Linked DNA regions of Homo sapiens: region 1 is linked to region 2. The links come from fine-mapping of genetic effects on gene expression. A gene starts in region 2. The other region holds a variant in brackets. All regions are shown on one strand. Distances are between the middles of the regions. Region 1 holds the start of CNPY4 (canopy FGF signaling regulator 4). Region 2 holds the start of TRAPPC14 (trafficking protein particle complex subunit 14).

The links. PIP is the estimated chance that this variant, and not a neighbour inherited with it, causes the effect.
Region 1: its variant is fine-mapped to the expression of TRAPPC14 in whole blood (INTERVAL, PIP above 0.99).

Annotation. Positions count from the first base shown.
Region 1 is chr7:100,115,711-100,130,912 of GRCh38, forward strand. It overlaps CNPY4 (canopy FGF signaling regulator 4), which reads left to right and starts at 3,924. Exons shown (of 6, transcript NM_152755.2): 1 at 3,924-4,152; 2 at 6,549-6,675; 3 at 6,771-6,867; 4 at 7,074-7,196; 5 at 8,804-8,921; 6 at 9,015-9,798. The coding sequence starts at 4,035. The coding sequence ends at 9,178. MBLAC1 (metallo-beta-lactamase domain containing 1) reads left to right here and starts at 11,257. Exons shown (of 2, transcript NM_203397.3): 1 at 11,257-11,354; 2 at 11,658-12,785. The coding sequence starts at 11,686. The coding sequence ends at 12,486. It overlaps TAF6 (TATA-box binding protein associated factor 6), which reads right to left and starts at 3,648. Exons shown (of 15, transcript NM_139315.3): 1 at 3,494-3,648. RefSeq lists enhancers at 3,601-3,750, 3,961-4,180, 4,551-4,620, 9,827-10,496, 11,207-11,276 and silencers at 11,477-11,596, 11,687-12,166. The variant C/G (reference allele first, on the strand shown) is at 7,307.
Region 2 is chr7:100,152,814-100,168,015 of GRCh38, forward strand. It overlaps TRAPPC14 (trafficking protein particle complex subunit 14), which reads right to left and starts at 5,910. Exons shown (of 11, transcript NM_018275.5): 1 at 5,276-5,910; 2 at 5,030-5,125; 3 at 4,820-4,949; 4 at 4,560-4,646; 5 at 4,281-4,401; 6 at 4,032-4,179; 7 at 3,821-3,903; 8 at 3,573-3,736; 9 at 2,858-3,012; 10 at 2,449-2,642; 11 at 1,610-2,351. The coding sequence starts at 5,686. The coding sequence ends at 2,198. It overlaps GAL3ST4 (galactose-3-O-sulfotransferase 4), which reads right to left. Exons shown (of 4, transcript NM_024637.5): 2 at 14,158-14,470; 3 at 13,689-13,992; 4 at 6,431-8,146. The coding sequence starts at 14,282. The coding sequence ends at 7,115. MIR4658 (microRNA 4658) reads right to left here and starts at 3,856; the gene lies at 3,792-3,856. LAMTOR4 (late endosomal/lysosomal adaptor, MAPK and MTOR activator 4) reads left to right here. Exons shown (of 4, transcript NM_001008395.4): 3 at 587-704; 4 at 1,054-1,390. The coding sequence ends at 1,151. RefSeq lists silencers at 5,017-5,193, 5,225-5,374, 5,405-6,044 and an enhancer at 7,491-7,990.

The DNA of each region.
Region 1 (15,202 bases), 37 kb before region 2:
ACCTGTAATCCCAGCACTTTGGGAGGCCGAGGCGGACGGATCACCAGGTCAAGAGATGGAGACCATCCTGGCCAACATGGTGAAATCCCATCTCTACTAAAAATACAAAAACTAGCTTGGCGTGGTGGCACGCACCTGTAGTCCCAGCTACTCGGGAGGCTGAGGCAAGAGAATCACTTGAACCTGGGAAGTGGAGGTTGCAGTGAGCCAAGATCGTGCCACTGGACTCCAGCCTGGCGACAGAGCGAGACTCTGTCTCAAAAATCAATCAATCCACCAGGTAGTCCAACCTGACTCCTCTGCTCCCACTGCTTGGCCCAGGTCACCATCATCTATCCACTGGGTAACTCCAAAAACCTCCTAACAATGTCAACCGGAGTCTACCCTTGCCTTTCTCTACATCTATTCCTAACGTTGCAGCCAAAATGCTTCTGTCAAACTGTAAAGCAGATTGTCATTTCTTTGCTCAAACCCTCATAATGGCTCTCCACTTGCCATAAAGTAAAACCTGAAATCCTTATAATGGGCAGGTGCAGTGGCTCAGCTCATGCCTGTAATCTGTGCACTTTGGGAGGGTGAGGTGGGAAGACTGCTTGGGCTTAGGAATTCCTGACCACCCTGGGCAACATAGCAAAACCCCATCTCAGGCCAGGCACAGTGGCTCACGCCTGTAATCCTAGCACTTTGGGAGACGAAGGTGGGCGGATCACTTGAGGGCAGGAGTTCAAGACCAGCCTGGCCAACATGGTGAAACCCTATCTCTACTAAAAATAAAAAAATTAGATGGGCATGGTGGCGGGCACCTGTAATCACAGCTACTCGGGAGGCTGAGGCAGAAGAATCACTCGAACCCGGGAGGCGGAGGTTGCAGTGAGCAAAGATCTGTGTCATTGCACTCCAGCCTGGGCAACAAAGCAAGACTTCTTCTCAAAAACAACAACAACAACAACAAAAAAAACAGACGAAATCCTTATAATGTCCTACAAAGCCCTTCAAAATTACCTTCTCCCCATTATATCTCTGAACGCCCTTCCTTCTTCCACTTTGATCCAGACACATACATTCCTTCTGGCTGCTCCTTAAACTTGCCAGGTATGTACTTGCTTAATAGCCTTTGCTGCATTCCCTCTGCCTGGAATGTTCTTCCCAAATATCTAATTGGCTGCCTACCCTGACCACCCTATTTAACTCTGCACTCTGCCCTCAGAGTGGGGGCAGCCCACTTTTTCTTTTCCATAGCATTTAACATCTTTTGGGCATGGCGCAGTGGCTCACGCCTGTAATCCCAACACTTTGGGAGGCCGAGGTGGGCAGATCACGAGGTCAAGAGATCGAGACCATCCTGGCCAACATGGTTAAACCCCATCTCTACTAAAAATACAAAAATTAGCTGGGCGTGGTGATGTGCACCTGTAGTCCCAGATACTCGGGAGGCTGAGGCAGGAGAATTGCTTGAACCCAGGAGGTGGAGGTTGCAGTGAGTAGAGGTTGTGCCACTGCACTCCAGCCTGGCAACAGAGTGAGACCCCGTCTCCGTCCACCATCTAGACAGGGCTCTTTTTTTTTTTTTTTTTTTTTGAGCTAGAGTTTCACTCTTGTTGTCCAGGCTGGAGAGCAATGGCGCGATCTTGGCTCACTGCAACCTCCGCCTCCCAGATTCAAGCAATTCTCCTGTCTCAGCCTCCTGCGTAGCTGGGATTACAGGCATGCGCCACCACACCTGGCTAATTTTTGTATTTTTAGTAGAGATGGGGTTTCACCATGTTGCTCAGGCTGGTCTTGAACTCCTGACCTCAGGTGTTCCACCCACCCTGGCCTCCCAAAGTGCTGGGATTACAGGCGTGAGCCACTGTGCCCGGCCGACAGAGCTCTTTATTATGTTCACTGATGTATTCCAGGAGCCCAGCCTGGGACATCATAAATATTTGTGAAGTAAATGAATTAGTTGTAAGGCTTAGAGATATTGGTGCTCAGTAAATACTTGGTATCACTATTATTAATAGGTCATAGGCCCAAGCTTTGAGCCTACACTGTAGTTAAAAGCAAACTGGGCCGGCCGTGGTGGCTCACGCCTGTAATCCCAGCACTTTGGGAGGCCGAGGCGGGCGGATCACTAGGTCAGGAGATTGAGACCATCCTGGCTAACAAGGTGAAACCTCGTCTCTACTAAAAAATAGAAAAAATTAGCCAGGCATGGTGGCAGGCACCTATAGTCCCTGCTACTCGGGAGGCTGCTGAGGCAGGAGAATGGCGTGAGCCCGGGAGGCGGAGCTTGCAGTGAGCCGAGATCGCACCACTGCACTCCAGCCTGGGCAACAGAGCCAGACTCTGTCTCAAAAAAAAAAAAAAAACAAAAAAAGCAAAGTGGAGCCAGGTGCAGTGGCTCACGCCTGTAATTTGGGAGGCCAAGGCGGGAAGATCACCTGAGGTTAGGAGTTCGAGACCACCCTGGCCAACATGGTGAAACCCTGTCTTTTTGTAAAAACACAAAAATTAACCAGACATGGTGGCGGGCGCCTGTAGTCCCAGCTATCTGGGAGGCTGAGGTGGGAGAACCGCTTGAACCAGGAAGCGGAGGTTGCAGTGAACCGAGATCGTGCCACTGCACTCCAGCCTGGGCGATAGAGAGAGACTCCATCTCAAAAAAAAAAAAAAAGCAAATTGGAGCCAAGAGAGGTAACTCACCCCAGTAATCCCAGCACTTTGGAAGGCAGAGGTGGGGGGATTGTTTGAGGCCAGGAGTTTGAGACAGCCTGGTCAACATAGTGAGACCCCCATTTCTGCAAAAATTAAAAAATTAGACGGACCTGGTGGTGTGAACCTGTCATCCCAGCTACTTAGGAGGCTGAGGCAGGAGGATCGCTTGAACTGAGGAGTTGGAGGCTGCAGTGAGCCAAGATGGTGCCACTGCACAACAGCCTGGGTAACAGACGGAAACCCTGTCTCAAAAAAAAAACAAAAAAAAATTAAAGTGGCACACTTGCAGTTGGACATTAGGAAGATTAACATATCAATACTGCTTAGGAGTAGTACAGGTAGGGTGGGGCCGTGCTGGAAGGATGGGAAGAGGGAGGCCGAAAAACAAATTGGTTCTTTTCAAACCATCCCTGATCTCCTCCCCGACTTTTATAAGTCTTATCTATAGGGAACACAACTATTCGAGACATACTCTGTGCCTGGCGCCGGGTTTACAAGAGGGGGTCGTGTCCCACTTCCCTGGCGAACTCCTACGAATCCTTCAATACCCGGCGGTACCCTCTGCCAGTAAAGGCTCATAAAACACGCTACAGTCACAGGATCTCCTCAGATCAGTGGAGGCGGCAGGAAGGCGTCCCAGGGAAGGGTTAACTTAAGCGAGATCCCAGCAGAGAAGCAGGTCGAAGATCCCCGGGCAGCGCGAAAGGAGGTTCAGAGAGCCCACCCCATCTCCTGCAACATCTCTCCAATGCAGGCACACACACGGGGTCCCCACGAGCACAGACACACAACCAACCGTCCTCTTTCCAGTCCCCACAAGGGACCTTCAAAGGGTCTCCTCCGGGGTACCACTCAGACCCGCCCCCGCCACCCGAGCGCGGGGAGCAGGAAAACTCTAGCGGCAGCCGAGACGCTGCTCACCCGGCGCTCGGCGCCATCTTGGCCCCGCCCCCTCGTGGGAGCAGGTCCTGGCAGAGCCTAAGAGCAAGTCACTGCCCCTTCCCCGTACCAGAATAAGTCCTCTAGGCTCGCAGAATGAAATTATATTTTAAAAGTTTGTTTCTACATCTATATATAAGGAGCACTCCCTCTTGGTGTAATTACTGCAATTTATTCCTTCACTACCCGGCTGCCAGGACCTTCAAGAGGCGCCACAAAACGGAGGCAGGGAAACCCGTAGCAACGAGGCCCCACCCTTGTTGGGCTGATCCTGCGCATGCGCCGACCTTCCTCGGCTGGATTTAAGGTTGCCGCTAGCCGCCTGGGAATTTAAGGGACCCACACTACCTTCCCGAAGTTGAAGGCAAGCGGTGATTGTTTGTAGACGGCGCTTTGTCATGGGACCTGTGCGGTTGGGAATATTGCTTTTCCTTTTTTTGGCCGTGCACGAGGCTTGGGCTGGGATGTTGAAGGAGGAGGACGATGACACAGAACGCTTGCCCAGCAAATGCGAAGGTATTTGAAGGGGGTAGCCCCTATAGGCATCGCCCGGCCACACCTCCTTCTTCTAGGCCGGACATCCTAGCCTGTATTGGGTGGGTCACCCGACCTCCTTGAAGGCTTGAGGGAGGTTCTGGTGGAGCTTGGCTGAATTTGGATGGGGTCAAGGAAGCGAACGTGTAGTGCCACCTCAAACTGCATCCAGAGAGAGCCTGCATTTTTTTGGCTGGCTTGGAACCCCCCGCCCGCCAATGGATTGTGGGAATTGTAGTTCAGGGACCATCGGCCCGGGACTGCCAACTTTTAGAGCATCTTCAGTGAGTGTTTACCTCATGTCACCAGACCTTAATCTGCAGAGGCTGCAGGAGCCGGGTGTGAGGCTCAGGCCTTGTGGACATCCGCTGCCCTACCCTAGCATAGACGCTCCCAAATTACAGGCCCCACACCCCGCTGAGGGGGTTTGAGGGTGAGTAATTCAGCCTTTGAAGCTCATAAACAAAAGGAAGCCACACAACTAGGAGAGTGTCCCCATCCGGTGAGACTTTGCAGACGGTGCGTACTATATGGATTTTTCAGCAAGCAGCGCCTTCCATAGCTGCACTAGCGTGGGGCCCAGTTGAGAAAGGGGGCTGGCCCTGATGCCCTAGTTTGCTGCCCTCCTGACTTTACGTTTCTTCCCTGGATTCCTTTTCTCTTCGCTTCACCCCCTCAACTGTATTCCAGTATCATGAAAGGCAGTCATGACAGTCTCATGACTTGGTCCTCATCTCTGTCTCCTTTCACCTCCGTGTGCCGCTCTTCTCCCCTGACCTGTCAATCTTTTTAAACAGACTTAATCACCTAATTGTATCAGTCCTTGCTTTAACACCTCTGCAGGCCTTCTATCAGAATACAGCCAACGGGCCTGGGCACAGTGGCTCACATCTGTAATCCCAGCACTTTGGAAGGCCAAGGTGGGAGGATCACTTGAGCCCATGAGTTCAGGCCCAGCTTCACCACAGCTTGTCATCCTTGGTTTATCTGTCCCAACTACACTGACAGAGACCTGTAGATAGAGATAATAGGTCTTATTGCTGTCTATATTGTTAGTATGCATACAGAAGGAGCTCAATAAATAACTGCAGGATAACAGTGAATACTTATACAGTGCTCACTATGTGCCAGCCTTTATATATGTTGATTTATTTAATCTTCATCACACTCCTATGAGGGACATACTATTATTATCCAATTGTATTAATTTTATATATATATATATATATATATATATTTTTTTTTTTTTTTTTTTTTTTTTTTTTTTTTTCTCTTTTCAGACAGCGTCTCATGCCGTTGCCCAGGCTGGAGTGCAGTGGTGCAATCTCGCTCACTGCAACCTCCGCCTCCCGGGTTCAAGCGATTCTCCTGCCTCAGCCTCCCAAGTAGCTGGGATTACAGGCGCCCGCCACCATGCCCAGCTAATTTTTGTATTTTTAGTAGAGACAAGGTTTCACTATGTTGGCCAGGATGGTCTCAATCTCTTGACCTCGTGATCCACCCACCTCAGCCTCCCAAAGTGTTGGGATTACAGGCATGAGTCACTGTGCTGGCCTATTTATTTTTAATGTATTTTACTTTTTTTAAGATGGAGTCTCCCTTTGTTGCCTGGGCTGGGGTGCAGTGGTGGGATCTCAGCTCACTGCAACCTCCACCTCCTGGGTTCGAGTGATTCTCCTGCCTCAGCTTCCCGAGTAGCTATTACAGGTGCGCACCACCACACCTGGCTAGTTTTTGTATTTTTAATAGAGATGGGGTTTCACCATGTGGGCCAGGCTGGTCTTGAACTCCTCAAGTGATCTGCCCGCCTCAGCCTCCCAAAGTGCTGGGATTACAGGTGTGAGCCACCACTCCTGGCCTATTATCCCATTATAAAGATGAAGAAACCGGCCGGGCGTGGTGGCTCACGCCTGTAATCCCAGTACTTTGGGAGGCCAAGGCGGGCGGATCACAAGGTCAGCTGATCGAGACCATCCTGGCTAACACGGTGAAACCCTGTCTCTACTAAAAATACAAAAAATTAGCCGGGCGTGGTGGTGGGTGCCTGTAGTCCCAGCTACTCGGGAGACTGAGGCAGGAGAATGGCGTGAACCCAGGAGGCGGAGCTGGCAGTGAGCCGAGACTGCGCCACTGCACTACAGCCTGGGCGACAGAGCGAGAGTCCGTCTGAAAAAAAAAAAAAAAAAGATGAAGAAACCGAGGCACAGCAAGCAGGAAGATTGCCACACAGCTGCTAAATGGCTGAGCCAGGATTCCAACCCAGCCAGTCTGGCTCCATAGTCTGCACTTGTATGCTCTGCTGCCTCAGGTCATCTGCAGAATGAATGGCTGGTGTGTTTGTCTTTTACCTCCCCCCGGACGTTTCTCCTCCCCACCAGTGTGTAAGCTGCTGAGCACAGAGCTACAGGCGGAACTGAGTCGCACCGGTCGATCTCGAGAGGTGCTGGAGCTGGGGCAGGTGCTGGATACAGGCAAGAGGAAGAGACACGTGCCTTACAGCGTTTCGTGAGTCCTTCGTGCTCCTCCCCTTTCCAACCCCCAACGGAGCCCTGGGAGTTCCTACAGCATCCAGGGAATCTTTGTTTCCTCTCTTTCCACAGAGAGACAAGGCTGGAAGAGGCCTTAGAGAATTTATGTGAGCGGATCCTGGACTATAGTGTTCACGCTGAGCGCAAGGGCTCACTGAGATATGCCAAGGTCAGACCCTTCCCCAGGGCAGGACCCCACTTCTCAGATACAAAGATCTGTATCCCCTGAGGCCCTCCAGAGGTTATCTGCCCATCATCTCACCATCATGGAACTCACCCTTGAATCTCCAGTAGTTGACAAAACTGAAATGGCAGAAAGGGGAAGGGAGGGGTGGGGTGGTGAGCTGGGCTGATGCCAAATTCTTAATCTCTCAGGGTCAGAGTCAGACCATGGCAACACTGAAAGGCCTAGTGCAGAAGGGGGTGAAGGTGGATCTGGGGATCCCTCTGGAGCTTTGGGATGAGCCCAGCGTGGAGGTCACATACCTCAAGAAGCAGGTAGGATAAGACACTGCACCATCCAGGGAGGTGAGAAGGGAACCTGAGAGGGGAGCTAGGTTCTAGGGTTTGACTATAGGGGATGTCTACCCCTAAGCATGGGGAAGGGG[C/G]CAGAGTGAGGACTGTGCCATTGATTAAAGTGGGTCCAGGAGCGGTGGGGTGCGGTGGCTCACACCTGTAATCCCAGCAATTTGGGAGGCTGAGGCAGGTGGATCACCTGAGGTCATAAGTTCGAGACCAGCCTGGCCAACAAGGCAAAACCCCGTCTTTAATAAAAACACAAAAGTTAGCTGGGCGTGGTGGTGCACGCCTGTGATCCCAGCTACTTGGGAGGCTGAGGCAAGAGAATTGCTTGAATCCAGGAGGTGGAGGTTGCCATGAGCCAAGATCGCACCATTGCACTCCAGCCAGGGCGACAGAGCAAGACTCCATCTTAAAAAAAAAAACAAAAACAAAAACAAAAAAAAAGAAATCATAATGAGCCGGGTGGAGTGGCTCACAACTGTAATGCTAGCACTTAGTGAGTCTGAGGGAGAAGGACTGTTTGAGACCAGAGTTAGAGACCAGCTTGTGCAACATAAGAGACCCCCTTCTCTACAAATAATAATAATTTTAAAGAATTTTTTTTTTCAAGACGGAGTTTCACTCTTATTGCCCAGGCTGGAGTGCACCGGCACCATCTCGGCTCACCGCGACCTCCGCCTCCCGGGTTCAAGCCATTCTCCTGCTTCAGCCTCCCGAGTAGCTGGGATTACAGGCCCCTGCCACCACGCCCAGCTAATTTTTTGTAATTTTAGTAGAGACGGGGTTTCATCATGTTGGCCAGGCTGGTCGAACTCCTGACCTCAGGTGATCCACCCGCCTTGGCCTCCCAAAGTGCTGGGATTACAGGCATGAGCCATTGGGCCCTGCCTTAAGGAAAATTTTTAAAAAGTAATAATGGGCCAGGTGCGATGGCTCACGTATGTAATCCCAGCACTTTGGGAGGGCGAGACAGGCGGATCACGACATCAGGGGTTCAAGACCAGCCGGGCCATCATAGTGAAACCCTGTCTCTACTAAAAATACAAGAATTAGCCGGGCGTGGTGGTGTGGTGGCATGCATCTGTAGTCCCAGCTACTCAGGAAGCTGAGGCAGGAGAATCACTTGAACCCGGGAGGCGGAGGTTGCAGTGAGCTGAGATCCCACCACTGCAGTCCAGCCTGGGTGACAGAGCGAGACTCCATCTCAAAAAAAAAAAAAAGTAACAATGGTTGCTAATGATATCCACCATCACTTATTGAGCACCTACTGTGTCCCAGACTCTGGACCAGATACTTTGCATCTGTAGCCTCATTTTACCCTTAACAGCCTGATGTGGTAGGTGCAATTACCATACATATTTTACAGGCAAGGAGCTGAGACTCAAGAGTTTAATAATCTACTTGGCAGAATAGGTGCTGGTAAATGTTTGTTGAATGAATGAGGATTGCACATCTAGTAGGCCAAACTTAGCTTCCTGGCTACCTGCCTCTCCAAAATCAGTCAGGTTGAGCAGGGAGAGAAGACAGGCGGGATCCCAAATCCCTCCAGAGCAGATACTCTTCTGGCCCTTCTACTTGACCAGTGTGAGACCATGTTGGAGGAGTTTGAAGACATTGTGGGAGACTGGTACTTCCACCATCAGGAGCAGCCCCTACAAAATTTTCTCTGTGAAGGTCATGTGCTCCCAGCTGCTGAAACTGGTAAGCGTAAGGGTTGAACTCCTCTCCTGCCAAGCCATAGCCTCCCCTGCCTCCAGGACTAATATCTAAATTGTTTTCTGTCATCCGATCTAGCATGTCTACAGGAAACTTGGACTGGAAAGGAGATCACAGATGGGGAAGAGAAAACAGAAGGGGAGGAAGAGCAGGAGGAGGAGGAGGAAGAGGAGGAAGAGGAAGGGGGAGACAAGATGACCAAGACAGGAAGCCACCCCAAACTTGACCGAGAAGATCTTTGACCCTTGCCTTTGAGCCCCCAGGAGGGGAAGGGATCATGGAGAGCCCTCTAAAGCCTGCACTCTCCCTGCTCCACAGCTTTCAGGGTGTGTTTATGAGTGACTCCACCCAAGCTTGTAGCTGTTCTCTCCCATCTAACCTCAGGCAAGATCCTGGTGAAACAGCATGACATGGCTTCTGGGGTGGAGGGTGGGGGTGGAGGTCCTGCTCCTAGAGATGAACTCTATCCAGCCCCTTAATTGGCAGGTGTATGTGCTGACAGTACTGAAAGCTTTCCTCTTTAACTGATCCCACCCCCACCCAAAAGTCAGCAGTGGCACTGGAGCTGTGGGCTTTGGGGAAGTCACTTAGCTCCTTAAGGTCTGTTTTTAGACCCTTCCAAGGAAGAGGCCAGAACGGACATTCTCTGCGATCTATATACATTGCCTGTATCCAGGAGGCTACACACCAGCAAACCGTGAAGGAGAATGGGACACTGGGTCATGGCCTGGAGTTGCTGATAATTTAGGTGGGATAGATACTTGGTCTACTTAAGCTCAATGTAACCCAGAGCCCACCATATAGTTTTATAGGTGCTCAATTTTCTATATCGCTATTAAACTTTTTTCTTTTTTTCTAAAAACTAGCTGGGCCCAAAGTTTCAAACAACAGCCGGGCACACATAGCTAGCTGGTCGATGAGGCAGCACCCAGAATGGCCGCTGTCTTGTTAAGCTCAAGCTCCAGCCTGAGCAACATAGTGAAACCCCAATTCTACACACACACACACACACAAAGAAGACTGCAGGGCTGGTGGTGCAGCGCCTGTAGTCCCAGTTACTGCAGAGGTGGAGATGGGAGGATCACTTGAGTCCAAAAGGTCAAGACCAGCCTGGAGGCTGGGCGCAGTGACTCACACCTGTAATCCTAGCACTTTGGGAGGCCGAGGCAGGCGGATCACCTGAGTGTAGGAGTTCGAGAGCAGCCTGGCCAACATGGAGAAACCTCGTCTCTACCAAAAATACAAAAATTAGCCGGGCGGCTGGGCGCGGTGACTCACGCCTGTAATCCCAGCACTTTGGGAGGCCAAGGCGGGTGGATAACAAGATTAGGAGATCGAGACCATCCTGGCTAATACGGTGAAAGCCCGTCTCTACTAAAAATACAAAAAATTAGCCGGGTGTGGTGGCAGGCGCCTGCAGTCCCAGCTACTCGGGAGGCTGAGGCAGAAGAATGGCGGGAACCCGGGAGGCGGAGCTGGCAGTGAGCCAAGATCGTGCCACTGCACTCCAGCCTGGGTGATAGAGCGAGACTCCGTCTCAAAAAAAAAAGCCACGCATGGTGGTGGGCGCCTGTAATCCCAGTTACTCGGGAGGCTGAGACAGGAGAATCGCTTGAACCCAGGAGGCGGAGGTTGCAGTGAGCTGAGATCACGCCACTGCACTCTAGCCTGGGCGACAGAACAAGACTCCGTCTCAAAAAAAACCAAAAAAAATTTAGAGGGGCGTGCACGCCTGTATTCCCAGCACTCCAGGAGGCTGAAGCAGGAGGATCGCTAGAACCAGGGGTTCAAGACTGGGGCGAGCTATGATGGTGCCCCTGCACTCTAGCCTGGGCGACAGGGCGAGACTGTCTCAAAAGAAAAAAAGACCAGGCGCGGTGGCTCACACCTGTAATCCTAGCACTTCAGGAGACCAAGACTGGAGGATCGCTGGAGCCCAGGAGTTCCAGACCAGTCCTGGCAACAGAACTAGACCGTGTCTCCAAAAAAAAAGAGAAAGAAAAAATAGAAACCTTAGCTGGGCTTGGTGGTGCGCATCTGTGGTCCCAGATACTCGGGACGCTGAGGCGGGAGGATCACATGAGCCCAGGAGGTTGAGGCTGCAGTGAGGTATGATCGCGCCACTGCACTCCTGCCTGGGCAACTGAGCATGAACCCTCCTCAAAGCTAATGGCGCTTCAAAATTCTGCAGTGCAAAGAAGTTGCTGGGGTTGCGGAGCGGAGAACCGCCAGGAGGCTGGAGCCCAGCCAGGCAGCCTCCTCGGGCACACGGTGAAGGCGCCGGAACTACAGCTACCTCCGCGGCGCCGCTTCGGCCGCCATATCTGGGTACACGGGAACCGCAGAGGACAAACTCTCACCCGCGTTTTCGATTTCTGCGCTTTCTTCGAGTGAGGCAAGACCTAGCAGAGGCCCAAGGTAGAGCGCGGCTAGGATTCGATGGAGGGAAACATAAAGGATAGCCTTTGGAGGGTGACGGGCAAGGACGTACGTACCGCGAACGGAATGGGGCGGGGGCCGAGGACGCCGAGGGAGGGGCGGGCCCAAGTGTGAAGGGAGTCTGGGCGATACCATTTTGGGCAGGGGTTGAGGGTGATACCAACTTAATGGGAGGCGGGTGGCAGAGAACCGAGGCTTAGGGGCAGTGGCGGGGCCGAGCGCGGGTGGGGGATCGCGGAGGGACAGGACGGTCGCCCACTGCTCCATTTCCTTTCTCCCCAGCCCGTCCCTCCCTGCCAGGAGCAGCCTCATGCGGACCGAGCCGCTGTGCGGGGCATCCCCTCTGCTGGTGCCCGGCGACCCCTACTCTGTGGTGGTTCTGCTGCAGGGCTACGCGGAGCCAGAGGGTGTGGGCGATGCCGTGCGCGCCGACGGCTCCGTGACCCTGGTCCTACCCCAGACCCGGGGCCCGGCCTCCAGCCACCGAGAGTCCCCGCGCGGGAGTGGCGGCGCAGAGGCCGCCCTGGAGGAGGCGGCCCGTGGCCCCATCCTGGTGGACACCGGGGGCCCCTGGGCTCGGGAGGCGCTGCTGGGGGCGCTGGCGGGGCAGGGCGTGGCCCCGGGAGACGTGACGCTAGTGGTGGGGACCCACGGGCACTCGGATCACATCGGGAACTTGGGGCTGTTCCCAGGCGCGGCTCTGCTGGTCTCGCACGACTTCTGCCTTCCCGGAGGCCGCTACCTGCCCCACGGGCTGGGTGAGGGGCAGCCCCTGCGCCTGGGCCCGGGGCTCGAGGTGTGGGCCACGCCGGGCCACGGGGGCCAGCGCGACGTGAGCGTGGTGGTGGCCGGCACGGCTCTGGGCACCGTGGTGGTGGCGGGAGATGTGTTTGAGCGAGATGGGGACGAGGATTCGTGGCAGGCACTGAGTGAAGACCCCGCAGCCCAGGAGCGGAGCCGGAAGAGGGTCCTGGTCGTTGCCGACGTGGTCGTACCTGGTCACGGGCCCCCCTTTCGAGTGTTAAGGGAAGCCTCGCAGCCCGAGACGGAGGGTGGAGGGAACAGCCAGCAGGAGCCGGTGGTCGGAGACGAGGAGCCCGCCCTGCACTAATCAGCCTCGAGAGGGACTGCACTCTTGTCAGGGAAGCCCTAACAGCGAAGAGCTGCTGGAGACAGAGTCAGAGCAGTCAAGGGTGGGAGCTTCCAGCCCTTCCAGGAGGCCAGTTTTCTAGTGAAGACAGAGTGCACCTGACACTGCCATCACATCGTCAGTATCACTGCCTGTCTCTGCCACCAAACTAAGATCAAAGGAGGGGCTCAGCTCCCTGTGCATTCTCCCTGGGCCTCAGTAAAATGGGAGAAGGTTCGTGGGAGGGGCCTCCAAAATAAAAATGGAAACTGCATTGAAAATCATAGTGCCCTAGTGTAAATGTGAAGCATTGACAATGATAATCGTGCAAACATGGTAATCTACAACTACAGCAGAGGCATACTTTGGCCAATTGCCCCTTTCTTATAGGATGGAGGTTGCTGAGAGAAGGTACAGGGCATAAAGATGACCCCTTAGTCACCTGACTTATGTATTTGTTCATATTTTTTTGTCACACAGGCTAGAGTGCAGTTGTGCAGTCATAGCTCACTGCAGCCTCCAGCTTAAGCCATCCACCTGCCTCAGCCTCCCAAGTAGCTGGGATGACAGGCAAGTGCCACTATGCCCCACTAATTTTTTTTTTTTTTTGAAACACGGTTTCACTCTGTCCCCACAGGCTGCAATGCAATAGCACAATCTTGTACTGCAGACTGCACTGCAACCTCTGCCTCCTGGGTTCAATTGGTTCTTGTGCCTCAGCCTTCCCAGCAGCTGGGATTACAGGCTCACACTACCATGTCCAGCTAATTTTTATATTTTTAGTAGAGAAAGGGTCTTACCATGTTGGCCACACTGGTCTCAAACTCCTGGCCTCAAGTGATCTGCCCATCTCAGCCTCCCAAAGTGCTGAGGTTACAGGTATGAACCACCATGCCTGGCTATCAGCTAATTTTTTTTTTTCATTTTTTTTCAGAAATGGTCTCACTGTGTTGCCCAGGCTGGTCTTGAACTCCTGACCTAAAAAGATCCTACCTTCTCAGGCCCTCTGCATTTTTTTTTGCTGGGATTACAGGCATGAGCCACTGTGCCCTTCCCCAAGTGTGATGATTTAATATCTGTTTTCTTTCAGCAGCCGGATTGCTCCCATGGGCATGGGATGGGGCCACACCTGCCTGGCTCTCCTATGCTTGGGACCTCCAGCACCTTGGACAACCTCTGGCACAGAGTAGGGCGGGGTGAAACAGCAACAGATGCCTGAAGTGAGATCCTAAGAGCTCACAGAGCAGACCAGTTCTACTTGCTCTAAGCACTTTCTGTACATTATTATTATTATTATTATTGACTGAGTCTTGCTCTGTAACCCAGGCTGGAGTGTAGTGGTGCAATCAAAACTCACTGTGACCTGGAACTCCTGGGCTTAAGTGATCCTTCCACTTCAGCCTTCAGCCTCCCAAACTGCTGGGGTTACAGGCGTGAGCCACCGTGCCCAGCCCCATCCATTAACTTATTTGTTCCTCATCGCAGCTCTGAGCTAAGTACTATTATTATCTTTCTTTCTTTCTTTCCTTTCTCTCTCTCTCTCTGTCTCTTTCTTTCTTTCCACAGAGTCTCACTCTGTTGCCCAGGTTGGAGGAGTGCAGTGGCTCGATCTCGGTCAATGCAACCTCCGCCTCCTGGGTTCAAGCACTTCTCTGCCTCAGCCTTCCGAGTAGCTGGGATTACAGGTGCCTGCCACCGTGCCCAGCTACATTTTTTTTTTTTTTCTGAGACGGAGTTTCACTCTTGTTGCCCAGGCTGGAATACAGTGGCACAGTCTCAGCTCACTGCAACCTCCGCCTCCTGGGTTCAAGCGATTCTTGTGCCTCAGCCACCCGAGTAGCTGGGACTACAGGCGCACACCACCACATCTAGCTAAATTTTCTATTTTTAGTAGAGACAGGGTTTCACCATGTTGGCCAGGCTGGTCTCGAACTCCTGACCTCAGGCGATCCACCCACCTCAGCCTCCCAAAGTGCTGGGATTACAGGCGTGAGTCACTGCGCCTGGCTTTTTGTATTTTTTTTTTTAAGCGGAGATGGGGTTTTGCCATGTTGGCCAGGCTGGTTGAACTCCTGACCTCAGGTGATCCAGCTGCCTCAGCCTCCCAAAGTGCTAGGATTACAGATGTTGAGCTGCCACACCTGGCCTATTATTCCTTTTCACAAATAAGAAAATACTGAAGTGCTGAGTGGTTAAGTGACTTGACCTTAAGTCAACAGAGATGACATAAATAGTAATTAGTGGCTGGGTGAGGTGGCTCACACCTGTAATCCCAGAGCTTTGGGAAGCTGAGGTGGGAGGATTGCTTGAGCCCAGGAGTTTGAGGCCAGCCTGGGCAACATAGCAAAACCCCAACTCTAAAAAAAGAAAAAAAAAATTAGTTGGGCTTGGTGGAGCCCACCTGCAGCCCCAGCTACTTGGGAGGCTGAGGCAGAAGGATCACTTGAGCCCAGGAGTTGGAGGCTGCAGTGAAGCCATGATTGCATCACTGCACTCCAGCATGGGCAACAGGTCAAGACCCTGAAAGTTATTGGCAAAGAGTAACTGGCAGAGCAGAGATTCCAACCCAGGCAATCTCGCTACAGAGGTGGACTTTACCTCTTCATGGCATTCTGAGGCGGCTCCTGCAATGAATAATAGATTGATTTCCAATCGACCAATGCAAAAGGGACACGTGGTTTTTCTTTTCTAACCAAAG
Region 2 (15,202 bases):
ACATGGGAGAAATCCAGTTTTATGGGGTTAGAAAAGCATGGTCAATAAAGAGATGGATGGCCAGGCACGGTGGCTCACGTCTGTAATCCCAGCATTTTGGGAGGCTGAGGCGGGCAGATCATTTGAGGTCAAGAGTTTGAGACCAGCTGATTAATATGGTAAAACCCCGTCTCTACTAAAAATATAAAAAATTAGCTAGATGTGGTGGTGCTGGTACGTGCCTGTAATCTCAGCTATTTGGGAGGCTGAGGCAGGAGAATCACTTGAACCCGAGAGGCCGAGATTGCACCACTGCACTACAGCCTGGGTGACAGAACGAGATTCCGTCTCAAAAAAGAAAAAAAAAAAAAAGATGGATAAGTTACTGCTCATCCGGGGAAGGCCAGTATTATGGGAAACAGGATGGCATCCGGAGGGTGACAACATTATAGGGGGAGATTTCAGGTTGTTTTTTTCCAAAGCTGAGGGTACTGGCAAGCCAAGGGGGAGAGGGTCTAAGTGTGAGAACCAAGGGGACTGTGCCTGGAATTCCTTCCTGAGCCTGTGCCGTAATGCCCGCCCCTCTCCCTCCTCCGTCTGCATGCAGTCATCTGGGGACCTGGAGAATGATGAGCAGGCAGCCAGTGCCATCTCTGAGCTGGTCAGCACAGCCTGCGGTTTCCGGCTGCACCGCGGCATGAATGTGCCCTTCAAGCGCCTGTCTGGTGAGCCCCTGCCCCTGCCCTTGGTGGTGGTACTGGGAGCGGGGGGCTACTTCCAGGGGCTTCTCGGCTTCTCTTCTTCCAGCCTCCTACCATCTCCTGGGGTCTCTGGTCTGGCCACTTTCCTCCCTTTGGGACTCCCTGGTATCAGAATTGTGAATGAGAAGGCAAGAGAAAGGAGATCTAGCAGAGGCCACTCATCTTCAAATCTCTGAGCCTGGAACTATAGAACTTCTTTGGCTTTGATCCCAGCCAATGTGCGTGTGGCCCCGCCCCATGGAGTCTGTTGCACCCACTAACTCTGTGCTCCCTTCCCTCTCCTGGGGCGGGGGAAGGTGTGTCTCTCCTCCAGTGGTCTTTGGAGAACACACACTGCTGGTGACGGTGTCAGGACAGAGGGTGTTTGTGGTGAAGAGGCAGAACCGAGGTCGGGAGCCCATTGATGTCTGAGCCTGCCGGAGGGCGAGGGTCGGAGAAGCGGATTGGGTCCTGGGCCTCTGTGATGAGGCAGGCACACCTGTCGGTCTTGGCTTGCTGCTAGAACTAGGGCCTTCTGCTCGCCCACCTCCCACCCCTACCTGGACGGGCCCAGGCTTGGGGACTCTGAGCTGTGTTAAGGAGAACAAGGGCAAGGAGACCTCCCTTTGTGCTCCCTCACTCCCTAATAAACATGAGTCTGATGTTCTCCAGCCCAGGGACATGTGTGTTTAGTGTTGGAATGGTTACACCCCATGTCTGTCTTCCACCTTCTGGGGAGAAAGTCATGCACCTTAGCCCAAGTTGGGTGCGGCAGGGCCACCTCTGTGTGCTATAAAACTGGGAAGCAGAAAAAGCTGGAGGGGAAGGGAGTCACCCTGAGCCCTGGCGACCTCTGCTCTTCCCATCAGTACACAAACTAGTCATCCTTCTCCCTCCTGAACAGGCATTTAATAGTCTTATTTCAGTTGGAAGCAATAGTTGGAAAATAAGTTACAGGAACAGACCAAAAAAAAAAAAATTAAAGTGCTTCAGGCTGCAAACGTAAACATAAGGGGCAGGAGGCTACCTGGCCCTGTCCCCAACCCCTGAGACAGGAAGGTCACTGTCAGGGGCCCTTAGCCATCACCACCCTCTAATCTCAGCCCTGCGGGAGGGAGGGAGGGAATGTCAGAGGTGGGAAAGAACTCAACGGGAATGAGGAAGAGACTTTGTAAACTCAGAACCAGGGTAAAGGGCCGGGGACAAGGGAGCTCTGGGAACCCTTGCCCTGGCCTAGGGGTGGGGCCAGCCCCCCCCACAGGAACTCGGGGAATACTGGTGGCTTAGTCCCAGCCATGCCCGCCCACTTCACAGCTTCTTCCCCCATCCCTCATCAGCAGACACAAGACAGGCAGCTCTGCCAGGCCTCTTCACCCCCGTCTGGGAGGCATCCCAGGGGAGGCACAGCCCGGGAGCAGGGATCCCCTCTGGGGGCGTTGGGTCTCTGGAGTGTAAGAGGGAACAGAGCTGGCACGGTGCTACTTGACGGGTTCCACCACCAGGACCTTGCACTCGCGCTTGGCAATCTTGTCCAGAGACAACACAGCCTTGTCCGGGGGCAGGTAGAGGGGGCGGCCAACAGGAGAGGCCACAGGGGGCGTGATGGCTCTGCGCTCCATCACACTGCCCGACCTGGGGGAAGGCAGAGGCTGTGGGCGCTGGTCAGACCCGGCACCCTCGCTGCTCCCATCCTCTACCCGGTCCCATGCCACGCCCCCTGGTTCTGTACCTCATGAGGTGGCTTCGGGAAGGCTGCTGGTGGGAGAAGGACTGGGAGCGGCCCAGGCTAGCCTGATGCCTCTCCACCAAGTCCCGGACAGCAGGGCTGCTGGGGCTGCTCTTGCGGGAGAGGGGCCGGGCCTCGGGTGGAGGGTGGGACACGCTGGCGGTGAACTGCAGCTTCAGTTTCATGTGCTGGCTTAGCTGGGGGGAGACACAGGTCAGCATGCCAGCTCGGCTTCCAGGACCCAGGCCTCCTTCCAAATGGTCTTCCCCATGTGACAGACTGATGTCAAATCTAAATCCCACCTTCCCTCTGCCCAGCTTTTTATTTCATCCCCAAAATCTAAGGGTCCTGCCTCCGTCCACCCCAGCATTCTGCATCACTCAGCACTCAGCCCAGACCCTCCCCAGCCCACCTCGAAGAGCCCCGTCCTCAGAGCCTGGAAGGCCACACTGAAGGTGAGCGCGCTGCCCTTCCGGGAAAAGCCAAGGTTGTTGAGGGGCGTGTGGCAGACGACGGAGTCCAGGGCAGCCTGCATGGCCCGGCGCTCCTCCTCACACAGCTGCTTTCCTGGGGGCAGAAACAGGGACCAGCAAACACTACAGCGTTCCTCATTCCCACAGGGCCTTCGCCAGCACAGTCTCATCTGATTCTCAAAGCCACTCTGTGGAGTAAACTGAGCAAACGTTATCTTTTGTGCATGTTGTAGATAACAACAGCTAATACGTACTGTGTGCAAGGCACGTCACGTATATTAACTCAGTATCTGCATGACAGCCCCATCAGATATGAGTTGCTCTATTTTAAAGGTGAGGACTCTGAGGCCCAGAGAGGTTAAGTAACTTATTCAAGGTCACACAGCTAGTAAAGGAGAGAAGTAGAGTTCACACCAGCGAGTGCAGCTCCAGTGTCTATGCCCTGAAAGTCACTCTGCCCCACTGCCTCTCTAAACTCTCCATCTAGGACACTGGGGAGACCACCCAGGTACAGGGCGGAAGCCACCTGCCACAAGTCGCCTCCTGTGATGGGGCTGGCACCAAATTTGGCTGTTTTCACTGTCCTGCCTCCCTGACTTTTTCCTTTCTCTTCCCCTCCCTGGGGACCAAATTCCTACCTGGCAGCTGACCTACCAGCCTGTGCATGCTCTGGGGTCCACACGAGCCTCACAGCAAGGAAGTCTTGGAGATTGTTAAGCAGCGTGTAGGTGACAGTGAAACGCTCGTAGGTCCGAACAGGGGACTTACAAGAAGCGGTCATCACAAAACACGGGCGGTCCAAGCGGACACTGGGCAGGCTAGGAGTGGTGAGAGAGGGATGCTGGCTGTGTGTGTCAGGCCACAAAGGCGAACGCCACGATTCCTCCAGGATCCACACTCACCGGTAGTGGGTGTAGATGCTCTGAGTGAAGGGCAGCTTTGGGGTAGACCACTGAACCACAGCAATCAGGGGAACTTCCAGGCCCTGCAGGAGGGACAAAGGGGGTTGGCACAGGTATTAAGAGTGCCCCTCCCATCTTGAGTCAGCTGCCTGGTCTTTCCCTCCCACTGCCTTATCACTTTTCTTTGAACACACCAGCCCCTTATGCTCACCTCCTTGGCCCCTGGAGGGGGCTGCTCACCCCCTCTCAGCTGAAACAGGAAGTTGTGTTCCTCCAGGGCATTCAGCGGGCAGGGGAAGCAGCCAGAGGTCCCGGGTAGGCGGCAGAAGGAGCCCATGGAGACTTCCCCAGACTGGTGACTAGCTCAGAAAAGAGGACAAGGCATGGTCTCCCCATGCCAGAGCTCAGCCCCTGAAGCCATCCCCACCACTTCACAGCCTCGCCCCTCCCAGGACCTCACCAGACATTGTCCACCAGCAGCACAGAGCCATCGGGCATGACAGGTAGATAACTGGCGTTGAAGTTGGGGAGGATTCGGATATCCCAGATGGAGATTTCCTCCTGAGAGGAGCTGTTCAGCACTGTGGGAGAGGACCAGCTTGGCTCAGAATAGCTGGACCCCTCAGGCCCCACCTTTACCCAGAAAAAACCGGACCTACCCCACCAGCCTGCCCAGAGGAACTGCATCCAATCAGTTCCCTTGTTGCTCCCGGAGGCTGGAGCCGGCAGCCCTGCTTACCCTTGAGCACGGTCAAGTGTTTTCCAGCCACAGTGAACTGCCGGCATCTCAGAACCGGAGGGGGCAGCAGAGTCAGCAGCGTGCTCACTGCGGGAGGGGGTGGGGGCAAGAAGTGATGGTCTGGAGGCTGACCTCACCTCCAACCCAGAATTCTCACCTTCCTCTTCTCAGAGCCCATTAGCCACTTTCCAGTGTGACCCCTCCCCTCTGTCCCCCAATTCCCAGACTCTAGCCCTTTGCCTCTGCGCTGCCCTGCCCACCTTGGGCCTTGAAAGCGCTCTGCTCGCCCCGGAATGTCTCCCCAGGAGATCGGGTCTGCAGCAATCGCAGGTAGCCTTGATCTCTGACCTCTGGTGCCTCAATCTCCCGCTTCCACACAGTCACTACAATCTGTCAAGAGGAAAGACAGATGGCTGAGCCCGGAAAAGGTGTCTGAATTAGGACAATAGCTCCACTCTTGCTCATCTTACCTTGGCCTTAGGTGTCCCTGGGGGCAGTCTATCCAGTGAAACGGTGAGTGGGAAGATGACCTCATCTGTGGACACAATCGGTTCCTCCACAGGCAGCTGGGGTTGGGAAAGGGGTGAAGAGGTCAGGAGCAAGTCAGAGGCAGCCTGCAGCCTTTCCCTTTAAGACCGGCAGTTCATCTGCCTCCTGCCTCAGGCCCCCAGCAAACCGCCCCTCCGTCCTGTGCCAGGTCCCCCAAAGCTCCTCACCGTGGTCGCTCCCCCTGAGGTAGCAGGGCCCGGGCCGTGGGTGAGAAGGGGGCTGCAGCCTCGGAACAAACCCCCACCCCCAGGATCCCCTCCCCCTGGGGGCTCCGAATCCTGGTCGCCGGCGCCGCCGCCCCCCGGCATCCCGCCTCCGGCGCTGACCGAGGCCAGGGCGGCCAGGGCGGTTGCCAGTTCTGCCCAGGCTCCTCTGGAGCCCAAGCCCGGGCCGCCCCCGGTGCCGGACCCCGCACCGCCCCGGCAGCGCAACACCAGCAGAAAACGGACAGTCTCCCCCAAGTACAGATGGTTGCGCCGGGGCAGCGCCCGGTACCGGCCCGGATCCCCTGCCAGCTCCGCGCGCGGCGGCAGCGGCACGGCCGGGAAGTACATCGAGTAGTCGCACTGGGACTCCATGGGGCGGCGAGGACGGCGCGACTGGGAGCCCGGACCGGAGGCCGACCGCCGGCGGGGCCCGCTAGGGTGGGTCCAGAGGGTCCCGACACCTCCGGCTGCTGCGCCCGGCTGGGGCGGCCGGAGAGACCGGCCCGGTCCCGGCACCGGGGCAACGAACCCGAACCGAGACCCGGCAGCGCCGGAACCGGGGTACTGAGCCGAATGACTGGAGAGAAACAGGAAGCGGAAGGGAGGGGGCGTGGCCGCCGAGGCCCCGGAATCTGCGGGTGCCCGGACCGTGGAGGAGGGGGCGGGGTCCCGCTGCTCTGAGGCTGCGAGAATGCAGGCGGGGGCTGCGGCCAGGCTTCTTGGAAAAGAAATGGAAGACCTCGTCGGCCAGGCGGGTTGGCTCACGCCAGTAATCCCAGCACTGTGGGAGGCCGAGGCGGCAGGATCGCTTGAGGCCAGGAGTTCAAGACCACCCTGGCCAACATAGCAAGAACTCCTCTCTGCAAAAAATTTAAAAATTATCCGGGCGCGGTGGCGCGCGCCTGTATTCCCAGCTACTTAGAAGGCCTAGGCAGGAGGATCCTTTGAGCCCAGGAGTTTGAGGCTGAAGTGAGCTATGATTGGGACACTGGACTGCAGCCTAGGTGACAGAGTGAGATCTTGTCTCGGAAAAAAAAAAAAAAACAACCCTTCCAACCCCACTTCTCCCAGGAAGATTCTCCATCCCTCCCCTTTCCACCCTCCATAAATCAAGTAGAAGTTTCAAATTATTTATTCATTCAACAAACATGTCAGAGAGAAATGAACAGTCTAGTAGCAAATATTTCATAGAGAAATGGACGTATCATTCCAACTCACCACGCCCCAAACTTCCTGTGGCTCACTCCATCTTTTGCCCCTCTAGGGAGCTTCGGTGATGTGGATCTGCCTTGGGGCAGGAAAGGGGAAGGGGAGGTCAGGCCTAGTGGCTCACGCCTGTAATGGCAGCACTTTGGGAGGCAGAGTCATGTGGATCACCTGAGGTGAGGAGTTCAAGACCAGCCTAACCAACATGTTGAATCCCTGTCTCTAAAAATATAAAAATTAGCCGGGTATGGTGGCACGTATCTGTAATCCTAGCTACTCTGGAGGCTGAGGCAGGAGAATCGCTTGAACCTGGGAGGCAGAGGTTGCAGTGAGCCGAGATCATGCCACTGCACTCCAGCCTGGGGGACAGAGCAAGACTCCGTTTCAAAAAAAAAAAAAGTTGGGGGGAAAGAACAAAATGAGTGGAGGGTGGAGGAGGGAAGCACTGCTGGGAGCCCAGCGAAGAGGGGGCTTGCATCGGGACAAAGACTCATCCCTTCTGGGAGATGCAGAAATGGCATCTTGCTGCCCCCCACTCATCACATGTGCCCTTCAAACATGGCTGCTCTTCCACCTAAATCTGTAGTCTGATGTTTATGGGGAGAGTGGCCTTGAAGTCTTGAGGGGCAGTGAGACGGTAGGGGGGAACTGCTTGGCATCCAGCTTGTCCTTGTACTGGAGCTCAGGGGTAGCTAGGCGCTCACATTCCTCTTGGTCTTGGGGGCTCAATCCACTCCGAAGTATATAGCCCAAAACCTTAGCTGACCCAAACTGGAAGGGGCGGAACCGGCGATCAGTGATGTATTTGGGGTCAGAAGCCTCACCCCCTACCAGACAATGTTTCGCTAGGGCCTCTCGGCGAGCCCGGAGCTCGGCCACAGCTGTCTGCAGCCGGCCCTGGCCGTATTTCTCTATCCGTGCCCAGAGACTGCGGTTGAAGTGGACATAGAGAGCCCAGTCCAGGTTGTTCCAGGCTCGGGCCCGTGCAGTCAGCTGCCGGTCCTCCGCAGTCAGTCCACTGTTGCTGACAGTGCTGAGGCCCTGCTTATGTCCAGCCTGGGCATTGTGCATGAAGCCCACCACGTCATCTAGACCCCAGCACAGGGCATCTGCCAGCAGAACCAATGACTCATCGAAGTACTCAGCCACCATGACCAGGTCAAAGACAGAGTCCAGCCATGCCAGACCCCACTGGATGAAGGATGAAGACCCCAAATCGAAAGAGGCAGGGCTTGATATCTGGCTGCGATGATCAGTAACAGTGGAAACAGGATGGATGAGGGCATTGGGATTGAGGGTTTGGGCTCGAGGGCCAGCACCAGAAGGCAAGACCTGCAGCTGTGGGGGGTTGGGGTCTCTGGGGGGATGAATATTCCCTCTCTTGGCCCTCTTCTCTGGGGGAAAGGGCAGGCCAAAGTCAAACCATAGTAAGTTGCGAGCGTAGTGGTCCCCACGGGCCCCAGGCCTGTAGAAGCCTCGAGGATTGGCCAGGAAGGCAGCCAAAGATGGTGACTTGCGGAAGGCTGATGAGGTGGATTTATAGTAGGAGAAGGCAGAGCGAGCCAGAGCCGCTGGGTCTCGGACAATGGAAAAAAAGAAGCTGTCAGAAGGCATGACCTGAAGTACCTGCAGAGGAGGGAAGACAGAAGAGAGAGAACTGGGCTGGGGAGAAGGTATGCATAAGTATGCACAAGCCATGTGTCCGCTGACCAGCCTCCTGAAACCTCCTCCTCCCAGCTCTGCTAGGAATCCCCAGCTTCCATCACTTGCTGAGTGGCAAGTTACTTAACATCTCTGAGACTCAATTTGCTTATCTGCAAATGGGGATAATCATACTTTCTCAAGTGACTATGAAAGATACATGAGATAAAACATACAAGAAATCTGGAGCATGGAGCCAGGCATGTTTTGTGTGCCTGTAGTCCCAGCTACTCAGGAGGCTGAGGCAGTAGGATGGCTTGAGCATTGCTATGTTGCCGAGGCCAGCCTGGGCAACATAGCGAGACCCTGTCTCTACAAAAATAAAACTAAAAAGCCGGGCATGGTGGCTCAAGCCTGTAATCCCAGCACTTTGGGAGGCCGAGGCGGGCGGATTACTTGAGGTCAGGAGTTCGAGACCAGCCTGGCCAACATGGTGAAACCCCGTCTCTACTAAAAATACAAAAAAATTAGCCAGGTGTGATGGCACACGCCTGTAATCCCAGCTACTCGGGAGGCTGAGGCAGGAGAATTGCTTGAGCCCAGGAGGCGGAGGTTGCAGTGAGCTGAGATCGTGCCACTGCACTTGACAGCCTGGCCAACAGAGCAAGACTCTGTCTCAAAAAAAAAAAAAAAAAAACTAAAAAAGTTAGCAGGTCAATCAATGATAGACTGGATAAATAAAATGTGGCACATATACACCATGGAATACTATGCAGCCATAGAAAAGAATGAGATAATGTCCTTTGCAGGTGCATGGATGAAGCTGGAAGCCATCATCATGCTCAGCAAACTAACCTACTCCAGTAAACTAACAAAACTAACACAGGAACAGAAAACCAAACACCATGTGTTCTCACTCATAAGTAAGTGGGAGTTGAACAGTGAGAACACATGGACACAGGGAGGGGAGCATCACACACTGGGGCCTGTCGGGGTGGGGAGCAAGGGGAGGGAGAGCATTAGGATGAATACCTAATGCCTGCAGGGCTTAAAACCTAGATGATGTGTTGATCAGTGCATCAAACCACCAGGGCACATGTGTACCTATGTAACAAACCTGCATGTTCTGCACATGTATCCCAGAACTTAAAATAAAAATAAATTAGCGCGGTATCCTGGTACACACCTGTAGTCCCAGCTACTCAAGAGGCTGAGGTGGTAGGATTGCTTAAGCCCAGGAGTTCAAGACAAGCCTGAGCAACACAGCAAGACCCTGCCTTGAAAGAAAGGGGCCGGGTGCAGTGACTCACACCTGTAATCCCAGCACTTTGGGAGGCTGAGGCGGGTGGATCACAAGGTCAGGAGTTCAAGACCAGCCTGGCCAAGATGGTGAAACCACATCTCTACTAAAACTATAAAAATTAGCCAGGCGTGGTGGCAGGCGCCTGTAATCCCAGCTACTCAGGAGGCTGAGGCAGGAGAATCGCTTGAAGCTGGGTGGCAGAGGTTGCAGTGAGCCGAGATCGCGCCACTGCACTCCAGCCTGGGCAGCAAAGTGAGACTCTGTCTCAAAAAAAAAAAAAAAAGAAAGAAGCAGCCAGAGAGGGAAGGAGGGAAGGGAAGAGGAGGGGAGGGGAGGGGAGGGGAGGGGGGAGAGGGGAGGGAGAGGGGGAAGAGGAGAGGCTTGTCGGGGTCAGGGGCAAAGGAAGAGAGAGAGAGCATGAGGATGAATGCCTAATGCATGCAAGGCTTAAAACCTAGATGACAGGTTGACAGGTGCAGCAAACCACCGTGGCACATGTATACCTGTGTAACAAACCTGCATATTCTGCACATGTATCCCAGAACTTAAAAATTAGCCGGGCACTAATTTTAAAGGGGAGGGGAGGGGAGGAAAAGGAAGGGAAAAAAAAGAAAAAGAAAAAAAAAGAAAGAAGGGAGGGACGGAAACCTGGAGGATAGGAAACTCCTGGAGAACATTAATTTCCTCGGGCATTTCTGTCTGCCTTGGTCAGTAAAACCTCTAGGAACCAACCTTTGTACTCATTTCTCCAGCAAAAACCTGTTGAGTGCCTGGGAGGGGGCATCACTGGCAACAAAGGAGCAACTATAATGCCATCTCGGGCATAGGCAGCAGGTGGGCAGGCCAGGCCCAGAATGGCTGAGGGGTAAAGCACTTCAGGGTCTCCTGGGCATCCTAGAGGGCAAAAAACACCCTGGGCTGGGACACTGGGAAGCCACGGCTGCCTGGTAGGATGCTGCCCTGAGGGCTGGGACACGTGATTACACCGCTCTGCAAGAATGAAGGTGGAGATCAGGCTGCACCACACCCTAACGTGGCCCTGCAGGCTGATGCAGGTCAGAACCTAGCTCCTAGTCTCCTTGAAGGGTTTCTGCCTCCAAAAATGACTTCCATCATTGAATCTGACTTCTGTCTGTCATGGTGTTCCTCAATCGGCTCTGCAAGTATGGCACACCTGAATAGCAGCCTGTGAACTCTCTTTTTTTTTTTTTTTTTTGAGGGGGAGGACAGGAAATGAGCATTTTAGCTTTTCAGTGTTTATTTTCTTCTTACTATTTTTTAAGAGACAGTGTCTCCTTGCTCTGTCACTTAGGCAGCATATCATAGCTCACTGCAGCCTTGAAAACTCCTGGGCTCAAGGGATTCCCCAATCTCAGCCTCCTGAATAGCTGGGACTACAGGCACACACCAACATTCCCTGTTAATTTTTAATTTTTTTGTAGTGATGGGGTCTTGCTATGTTGCCCAGATTGGCGTTGAACTCCTGGGCTCAAGTAATCCTCTCACCTCAGCATCCAAAACACTCGGATCACAGGCATGAGCCACCATGCCTGGCCCTGCAGGTCTCTTTGAAGGCAGAGGGGAAAGCGAAGAAAACAGTCTTTGGCATCTGGACCTGGAATAAAATCCCACTCTGCCATTTACTAATTCTGTGACTTTGGGCGGGTTATTGAAGGTCTCAGAGCCATCATTCCTCCATCTAGAAATCTGAGTAACTGGGTAACACTTACCTGGAAGAATGTGCAAGTGTCTGGAACATGGTAGGTATTCAGTGAATGGTGGCGTCAGTGAAGGCCATCATCCTAGCCTCTGGAGAAACCTACCTCAAAGGTCACTGTCATTGCCTCACTCCTGGCAGTGGCCTTTCGCTGCCCATCAGAGCACGCCCATGTCCTCAGCTGGTGTCTCCAGCTCCAGCTTCAACAAGGGTGACTTTGCAGCCCCTGTGGAACTTCTACCCCCAGTACAGACGTTCTCCCTCTTACATGCACACACACACGTGCACCCCACCATGTCCTTGCTGGTGTTTTGCTCCCTCTAAGAATGCCTCATGCTGTCCTTACCACAAGCCACATCCACCTTTTCCTTTAAAACCCCCCGCTCTCGGCTGGGCACGGTGGCTGACACCTGGAATCCCAGCATTTTGGGAGGCTGAGGTGGGCGGATCACTTGAGGTCAGGAGTTTGAGACCAGCCTGGTCAACATGGCGAAACCCTGTCTCTACTAAAAGTACAAAAATTAGCTAGGCGTGGTGGCGGGTGCCTGTAGTCCCAGCTACTTGGGAGGCATGAGAATTGCTTGAACCCGGGAGGCAGAGGTTGCAGTGAGCTGAGATCGTGCCACTGCACTCCAGCCCAGGGGAAAGAGCAAGACTCTGTCTCAAAATAAATAAAATAAAAATCAAAATTAAATAATAAAGTAAAATAAACCCCCCTCTCCAGAAAGCATCACCTCTTTGGTGAATATTCTTCTCACCATTCCAGATACAAACACATGCACAAGCCTCGGAAGAAGCCTCGACTTTGGAGTGCATGGACCTGGGCTCAACTTCCAGCTCTGCCACTTTAATTTTCAATTTTATTTATTTATCTTTCTTTCCTTTTTTTTTTTTTTTTGAGACAGAGTCTCACTGTGTCACCCAGGCTGGAGTGCAGTGGCACGATCTCAGCTCACTGCAAGCTCCGCCTCCCAGGTTCATGCCATTTTCCTGCCTCAGCCTCCTGAGTAGCTGGGACTACGGGCACCCACCACCATGCCCGGCTAATTTTTTGTATTTTTAGTAGAAACGGGGTTTCACTGTGTTAGCCAGGATGGTCTCGATCTCCTGACCTTGTGATCCACCCGCCTTGGCCTCCCAAAGTGCTGGGATTACAGGCGTGAGCCACTGCGCCCGGCCTTTTTTTTCTTTTGTGAAATGGAGTCTCGCTCTGTTGCCCAGGCTGGAGTGCAGTGGCACAATCTCGGCTCACTGCAACCTCTGCCTCCTGGGTTCAAGCAATTCTCCTGCCTCAGCCTCCCGAGTAGCTGGGATTACAGGCGTGTGCCACCACGCCTGGCTAATTTTTGTATTTTTAGTAGAGACAGGGTTTCACCATGTTGGCCAGGCTGGTCTCGAACTTCTGACCTCAGGTGATCTGCCCACCTTGGTCTCCCAAAGTGCTGGGCTTAGTCCCGGGCTAAAAATACAGCTGATCCTCAAAATGTGAGGGGGTTGAAGAAGACAAGTCAGAAGGCAGTGGGGGAGGTGGGGCCCTGGTGTGACAGTGAAAGGGAGGCTAAGAAAGGGAAGGGGCGTGTTGTCCTAGGTACTTGCCAGGCTGAGGTGGGAGGATCATTTGAGGCCAGCCTGGGCAACATAGTGAGACTCCATCTCTACAAAAAATAAAATAAAAAAATAGCCAGGTGTGGTGGCATGCACCTGTAGTCCCAGCTAGTTGGGAGGCTGAGGTGAGAGGATCGCTTGAGCCCAGGAGTTTGAGGTTACAGTGAGCTATAATTGTACCACTGCATTCCAGCCTGGATGACAGAATGAGACCCTGTCTCACACACACACACACACACACACACACACACACACACACAGGCTGGGCAAGCTCACTCCTGTAATCCCAACCCTTTGGGAGGTCAAGGTGAGCAGATCACTTGAGCCCAGGACTATTTATTTATTTATTTAAGCCCAGGGGTTTGAGATCAGCCTGGGCAACATAGCAAGACCCCATCTCTACAAAAAATTAAAAAGTAGCCACGTGTAGTGGCACATGCCTTAGCCATAGCTACTCAGGAGGCTGAGGTGGGAGGATCACTTGAGCCTGGGAAGTCAAGGCTGCAGTGAGCTATGATTGTGCCACTGCACTCCAGCCTGGGCGACAGAGTAAGACCCTGTCTTCCAAAAAATAATTTAAAAACAGAAGAGTAAGGGGCACCTGGAGGGAGAGTTGGGGGCTCAGAGTTGGCAAGGCACTGATGCCAGGGAAATACATTGGTGAAAGAGAGAGACTGGAGTAAGCGCCAGAGAGAGAAGGGAGGAGGACTTGGGCTCCCAGAAACTACTGGGGAAGGGACACCTGTAGAGAGGATGGCAGGGAGCCCAACTTTGTGGCCCCTATGTCCAACTTTAGGGTGAGATGATGCCTGGGGAGCCCCCAGGTCTGGGCCCCCTCCCTTGGTGGTGTCAGCCTGAGCCCATCTGTTTCTGGTCCCTCCCACCACTGCGACACTCCTTACCTCTTTCAGGTTGAACCTCATGTGGTGACAGAGGATGTGGAAGGGGAGCTGGGTGCCTCCACCCTGTGGGCGGTAGCCTTTTACCCTAGAGGCCTGGAAGAGCTTTGGGTAGCCAAACTGGTAGCGGGCAGGGAGGGCGAAGCGCAGCCCGTGCTGGTCCCCATAGCGGTGAAGCAGGCTCAGCACAGAGCTGCTCCCGGATTTATGTGTCTTCAGGAACACCAGTCGCTGCCGGGGTGGGCAGGACGGAAGGGCTGGTCGTAGGGATGGGGCCGAGGGCTGTCGGAGCTGTAGCCCAGGTAGCCTGGGAAGAGATGGAGGGGGAGTGTCCTGTTCCTCAGCAGCAAATGGGTAGAAGGGACAGAGGGCATGGAGGCTTCTGAGTCCTCAGGAGTCACCAGCCCCAGGTGGGATGGGGAAGAGCAAGTACGGGGCGTCTAGAAGGAGTTGGGGCAAAGTGGGAACTCACCTCCTCTGGAAGGGCCCTCCCAAGAGCTGGAGTGCAAAGCCAATGGTCATGAAGACTCCCAGAGCCACCCCCAGGCTCCGAGGTCCCCAGAGCCGCAGCGTCCTGGCAGGAGAGAGAGGGCCCATGTGGCACAGGGAAGGGTGAGGTGACAGAGAGATGGAGCCAGGGCCAGGAAGAGGGGCAGAGACAGCTGGAGACAGCCGTGCAGCTGCGGAAGGCACTGGTTGGAGATCGGGGGGTCATTCCCCAGGCCTGCTCACAGTCTTGGTTGAGTCTGCCCCCTGAGTTAGCAGATTTTTGCCTCTGTCAGCGTCTAGAAGGGAAATGAGGGGGGAAGAAGGGAAGTCTAAGGAGAGAGGCAGAGGCAGCCTTCTCTCCTGCTGCAGCTGAGACCTCCTTCAGGGAAGGGGAGTGGCTGGGGATGTTGTCTATACCCAGACTCTCCTAGGTGGCCCCACAACTACTGTCTCTGCTCTATCACTTTCTTATCTCCAGTTCCTCCCGCTCCCCACCTACAGTTGTCCCTGAGCCTTGGGGATTTATAAGGGAAGGAGAGAAAAAGCCCCAGCTCGTGAATGAAACAGCCAGCAAGAGAGAGAGAGATCAGATCAATCAGCTCATTAACACAGTCAGGTCAGACCATGGTCGGGAACCTGGTTTCCTCCAGAGCCCCTCTGGCTGTCACAGATGGGGATAAAGAGCCCTATCCCAGGACCAGGAAGGGAAGCCATACAGTGGGAATGAGGATCAGACAGGACACAGGTGTATGAACCCAGGCAGGAGGAAGGGAGGTTGGACTTCCAGGAGTGGCATTGCAATGGGTAAGAGCCATTGGGTTATAAATTCCCGCGCCTCTTTTTTCTCTGTCTCAGCACGGGGCAGACCCCCATGTATGACAGGGGCTGGGGGAGACGTGTGGCTACTTATAAAGCCCAGATCCCTGGACTTACCCACCATTCCACTTTCCAACCTTATCAGTGCACCCGGAGGAGACTGAAAGGGTGGGGCTGGAGAGGGAGACAGAAAGAGAGAGAGACACACACAC